Regions from separate parts of the Homo sapiens genome. Here region 2 is linked to region 1. Evidence: fine-mapped expression QTL. A gene starts in region 1. The other region holds a variant in brackets. All regions are shown on one strand. Distances are between the middles of the regions.

Region 1 (2,912 bases):
CTGTGGTGAAGGAGGGAGCAATCCCTGGAACTTGTTTTCTTCTATATTTCTTCATTTGGGGTTACTTACACTTTGAGAAAAGCTTCCTTATTTGTAAACAAGGGTTGGGAAGGAGATGAAGGTCCCAGTTGCTAGGCTGACTGGCTGGGGAACTTTTGCAAGTGCTTTCCATCTATTTCCCTTTTTAAAGGACGGCTGATCATTTCACTAAATGGCCTACATACACTTCCTATATCTTTTTTTTTTTGTTTTGTTTGTTTGAGGACGTCTTGTTCTGTTGCCCAGGCCGAAGGTCATGGCTCACTGCAGCCTGGAACTTCTGGGCTCAAGCAATCCTCCTCATCCTGCCTCAGCCTCCGAGTAGCTGGGATTACAGGCGCCTGCCACCACTTGTGGCTAATTTTTGTAGAGACGGGGTCTAGCTATGTTGCCCAGGCTGAGCTTCCTGTATCTTAAATTCTATGACATTCTTCATGGGATGAAGAAAATGATATGACTTCTTCAAAGACGAACGAGTCTTGCAAGCTGTCGTTCTCTCCAGCCCAGGTGAACCCTACCAAGAAAAACAGCTTGTCTGAAACGCTGTTTTCTGACTGAAAGTGTAGGGAAGCTGGAAAGTAGCTGGTTCTGTTTTATTCCCCGAAGAATCAGGCTACAAACTTGACAAGAGCAGGGCCGGGGATGTGCGCTCGGTGTGCGCGCGGGGCTGCGGGCTGAAATGCGCCGGGGGTTTCCCTTTCGTGGAAGCCTTCCTGGAATCTCCCAAGGCGCTGCTCTCCGCCCTGGGGCGCCGGCCAGAGGTCCGGGGCCGGGGGCCCCGGACCCAGCTGTCTTCAGCCACCGCGCCCCCACTCTCAAGCCGCGCCACCGCGGGCGCTCGGTAACTGCTCGCCTAGCCGGACTGCCTCCCAGCAGGAGGGACAAATAAAGAGGAAAACCACAGAGCCACCGCAACCTATACCTGCCGCGTCCCCCAACCCTGTTCCAGCTGTTGGCAATGCTGCCAACACACCCTTCACCAGCCCCGGGCCAGCGGCAGCGAGGATTCGGGGTGCCGAGATGGCAGCTCCAGGAGACCCCGCCCCAACCGCCCACCCTCTTCACCGTAGCGCCCGGCCCTTACCGCCATGGTGAGTGCGCAGGGCGGGCGCCAGGGCCGCGTCTGCTCGCTCGGGTCTCCTCGCTCCGAGTCAGTTCAACCGCCGCCGCCGCCGCCGCCGCGATAGCTACCCTGGCCGCACGGATCACGTGGTCCGGGCGAGGCGGCGCGCGGGCGCCTGGGAGTTGTGGTCCCCACACGCGCCCTACTTCGGCGTCCTCGGGCGCGCCCCCTGGCCGAGACCCAGGCGCCTCGCCCCAGGTTCCCAAGGGCTGAGGCTTGGCGTTCCCGGAGTCGCGAGCGAGAGGGACCACCTGCTGCCCTCTGTCTTCGCCCTTCCTGTTTTGCACTTGGCTTGTCTTGGCGATTATGAGAATGTTTATTGCTCATTGTAATAAACTACCCCAAGCGTAACATATATTGAGTTGAAATGGGCAAGTCCGTGCTATGGACGCAATAGCAACACATTTGGAGTAAATTAAGTCAATTATGCCCTAGATTTTTAGTGTAGTCATTACAAGATAATTACATTTTTCTTTTTAGAAAAATATTTTCCAATCTGATAAGCCAAAAGGAATACACCCGTGTAATTTTGTTTTTCTTTGATTACTAGGGTAGTAAACTATTTTTCTTACGGGTACTTCCATTTCTGTGTATTGCCTGTTCATTTCACTGATCCAGTTTTTTGATGGGGAGTTTCTTGTAGGGTGAGGGATTTTTAATGGTTATTGATTCTTAAGCATATTTAGGAACCCTTTGCTAATCAGCCTATGAGTAAAGAGGCTCTTCAGAGAAACCTTACTAAGGACAGTATTAGCAGAGACCTTGAGCCTGGAGCTAACCTCAGTTCACATCCATACGCATCAACTATTGGCTTTGGGACCGTAGGCAAATAGCTTACATCTCTGAACCTCAGTTTTCTGGTCAGTAAAATGAAAATAATAATAAAATCTATGTCATAGGGATTAAATGAAAACATACATGTTAAATTATCATGTAACCTGGCAGTGGGAGCTTGTTCAGTAAATGGTAGAATCCTCAGGGTCACACAGCTTTTTTTCTTTTCTTTGAAACAGAGTCTCGCTCTGTCGCCCAGGCTGTAGTGCAGTGGCGCGATCTTGGCTCACTGCAACCTCCATCTCCCGTGTTCAAGCAATTCTCCTGCCTCAGGCTCCCGAGTAGCTGGGACTACAGGCGCGCACCACCATGCCTGGTTAATTTTTGTATTGTTAGTAGAGACGGGGTTTCACCATATTGGTCAGGCTGGTCTTGAAATCCTGACCTCGTAATCTGCCCGCCTCGGCCTCCCAAAGTGCTGGGATGCTGGGATTACAGACGTGAGCCATCTTGCCCGGCCCACACAGCTTTTAAGATTCTCAGTCTGAAAGCTAATGGAGCAGCTTCAGGGAGAGAACATGGGCCGTGGCACTGTGATGGGGCTGGAGAGGGAGAGCTGCTGCTGTCATGGTTTACTGGGCCATGGGGAAGCACTGGGGAGAAGGGCTAAGGGTATCTCTGAAGCATCTGGGTTCCAAGAGCTGGGGAGGGCTTTGGGTGTAGCTTTTCACCTCTCTGGGCCTTACATGGGAAGCAGGAGTAAGATAATCTGACCTTCACATAAGTGGGCTCTGGTGCACCCCACTCCCCCCACCTGCATTGAAGAATCTGCAACACAGCTTTATTCATTTGACGGTTTTTGTTGGCTTTGTCACAATCTGATGACCTTTACACTTACTTCTAACTTCCTCATGGATGTTTTGGTTACAACACTTAGCCAGGGAGTCCTAAAATTTCTTTCTGTACCACCAGAGGC
Region 2 (2,912 bases), 38 kb before region 1:
TTTCTTTTCATTTGGTTGGAGTGATTGTTTTTTCTCTAAGGCAGAATCATTATTTAGAGAGCTAATATGCAAAATGATACAGATTGGTATTGGTACATGTGTTTCTACTGTGATTAGTACTTCCCTGAGAGATGGAAGCAATTTTGTAGATCTTTTACAAGAACTGGGCAGTTTTCAGTAGTTAATTTAGCCTTCTTTACTAGAATCTCTGTTGTTACTAAAGATCACTCTCTGGGCAGCATGATGCCCAATCCATAGCAGGTGTTCAATTCATATTTATTGAGCGAATGTTTAGATTCTTTTGGGAAATGTTGGTCTTCTCGCTGATGTTGCCTATCACTAAAGCTCCAACTAGTATGTCTTTTGACTTTGTATGTGGTATTCTTGTGTTTGTTTTCTATTTAGAAGTTCAATAATTTTATTGAATTCAAGTCTGTCAATTTTCTCCCCTTGTTATTTGCTTTTGACATTATGCTTAGAAAGCCTCTCCACTTTCAGATTATAAATATCACATGTATTTTTAAAGATATTGATCAATATTTTATAATTAGATCTAAATTTTTAATCCATTTGGAATTTGGTGTATGCTATAAAGTAACTTAATTTTAACTTAATTCTTCTCTAGTGGTTAGTTCTTTATTGAATATAATCGTCCTTTCTCAATTGAAGTGAAATATATAACTTAGACTGATTTTTAGTATTCTTTTACTTTGATAGAAAACAAGGAAAGGGCGATGGTCTTGAAAAAATTTTTTCTGGAATATACTTTATATTTTACATTTTTGTTTTATTTCTTGGAAAAGCTCTATGTAGATTTAACATCTTAAAGGAAGATAGGATTTCTGAGGCCTATTGTTATAGGATTATTTTTTTCTGGTCTGGAAATGCAGTGTAAATAAGAATATTTTTATTAAAAATTTTATGTGCTACTTATTCATTTTAGAATAATTTAAAATTATAGAAAAGAAACATATTGAACAAAAAGGGCATTCATCTTTATATATTGCTTTGTAACCTGATTTTTAAACCTAATGTTGTATCATAAACATTTACATTAACATAAATGATTTAAGTAAATAAAGTGGTTTAAAGGAAACCCAGTGTTCCATTATATCATTTTATTATAATTCCTTTCACTCTGTTATTAGACATTTAGGTTGGTTAAGAGCTGTAGAAATCTAAAACTGGGATGTTTTTCT[A/G]GAAGAGAATATAAGGGGACAAGGTGAAGTTCTAAAGTAAAAGAATGTCTGAAACTTTGGTCTTTGAACTATAGCATAGCAGATTACAGTCACTGTATATTGTGCCTCAAGATTTTCTGTTTCTTATATGAAGCAGGAGGTAGAATAACTTTGTTTAGAGTTATAGCTTTGATTTTATGAAAAGCTTTGGTTTTATGAAAATAAAGAATGTTGGAAAAACATCCTAAAACTATATTATCCAAAAACAGCATGTTAATCAGGTGCAGTGAATCCTACGTTATCTGATTTTCATTGAGTACCTTGAGGACTATGGGGATGATTTGTAAGAAGCGAAGAGGCTGGATTATTTCTTGCAAAAGACCACTTTTTTTGTGGGAATAGATTAGATTTGTCTTAAGGCAGTTACTGGCTTGGAAAATGATACATTCTGAAGAGTGGTTAGTTTAGCTGCTTCAGACAATAGAACATCAACCTCTGAGAATATTTGTGGAAATTAACTATATTTACTTATTCAATATGATTATAGGGAGAAGGACTCTTACTTTATTGCATAGCAGAGTGCTTTTTCTCCACAACCCACACCCTCAACTCTTGGCCTTCCGCTTACCTTTCCTTCCTCTTCTTTGCCTAGAAATCCTGTGTTGGAAGCAGGTTTAGGGCAGACAGTCAGCCTCAGTCTTCAATGAGGGACCCCGTACAGAGTAACCCAAACGCTTGTTCCTGTTTCAGGATGTGAACACTCTGCAAGGAGGTGGGCAGCCTGTGGTGACTCCGTCCGTCCAGCCCTCTCTTCATCCGGCCCATCCAGCGTTACCACAGATGACCTCACAGGGTAAGGAACCTCTCTGAGGCTCTGTGGCCTTGAACTGGGTCAGCATGAAAATTATCGTCACTGTTCCTTAAACTGTTAGGCTGCATTGTTTCAGTACTGAGGACTAAAGTGTAAATGTAAGAGTGTGACGCTTGTCAGTTTGTCCCTGGGTAAGGCATTTTCATACCCAGAGATGGACCTGGCTGCTGGTTGTGACTTCTGCTGTGTTGCACTGTCAGTTTTGGAAATCTGCACTCAGCTATTGAGACATCTCCCTGGGTGTGTTCTGCACTTCCTGTCGGGTGGGATCCTAGGGCTGAGTCAGAAGCACATGAGAGCACCCAGTTTCCTTCCACTGGCTCATTCCTGAGATTGCAGTAGAGCTGAGTGTAGGGAGACTAGGCAAGGAAAATAGTTGAGTCTGAAGCATGATAGTATGTAAGGTGCTAGTCTAGACTCACACCAAGAAGCAAGGGTGGATAACAGTGAAAATGTCTCCCTTTATCTTAGCACCTCAGCCATCTGTTACTGGGCTCCAGGCACCTTCTGCTGCCTTAATGCAAGTGTCATCTCTCGATTCCCACTCAGCTGTATCTGGAAATGCCCAATCCTTTCAGGTAACATTTTATAACCGTATTAATTATATCCTATAATTTGCTGTGGTTCTAGTCAGTCTCTTTTCTTCTTCCTGTACATTTCATACAGTAGCAGTTCCCCAAAGTCAGAGTTTGTAATTTTTTTCCCTTCCTTGGTTACCACTTTCTCATCTCTAAACCAGGCAAAGGATAACCTACGTTCCAGTGTCATAAAGATTAAATGCAAGAACAAGTAGAGCCCCTAGTACAACGTAGTAAAGATGCAATCAATGTTTGTTTCCTTTTCTTTTCACACATATCCAGTTG

What was found. PIP is the estimated chance that this variant, and not a neighbour inherited with it, causes the effect. A credible set is the group of variants that fine-mapping cannot tell apart.
Region 2: its variant is the best candidate, but not a certain one, in a credible set for the expression of SLC31A2 in whole blood (TOPMed, PIP 0.89).

The regions. Positions count from the first base shown.
Region 1 is chr9:113,149,292-113,152,203 of GRCh38, reverse strand. It overlaps SLC31A2 (solute carrier family 31 member 2), which reads right to left and starts at 1,197. Exons shown (of 4, transcript NM_001860.3): 1 at 1,124-1,197. The coding sequence starts at 1,129.
Region 2 is chr9:113,187,508-113,190,419 of GRCh38, reverse strand. FKBP15 (FKBP prolyl isomerase family member 15) reads left to right here. Exons shown (of 28, transcript NM_015258.2): 13 at 1,929-2,031; 14 at 2,521-2,627. Among named protein-coding and RNA genes, the nearest start is that of FKBP15, 32 kb to the left of the region's middle. RefSeq lists an enhancer at 1,686-2,885. The variant A/G (reference allele first, on the strand shown) is at 1,200.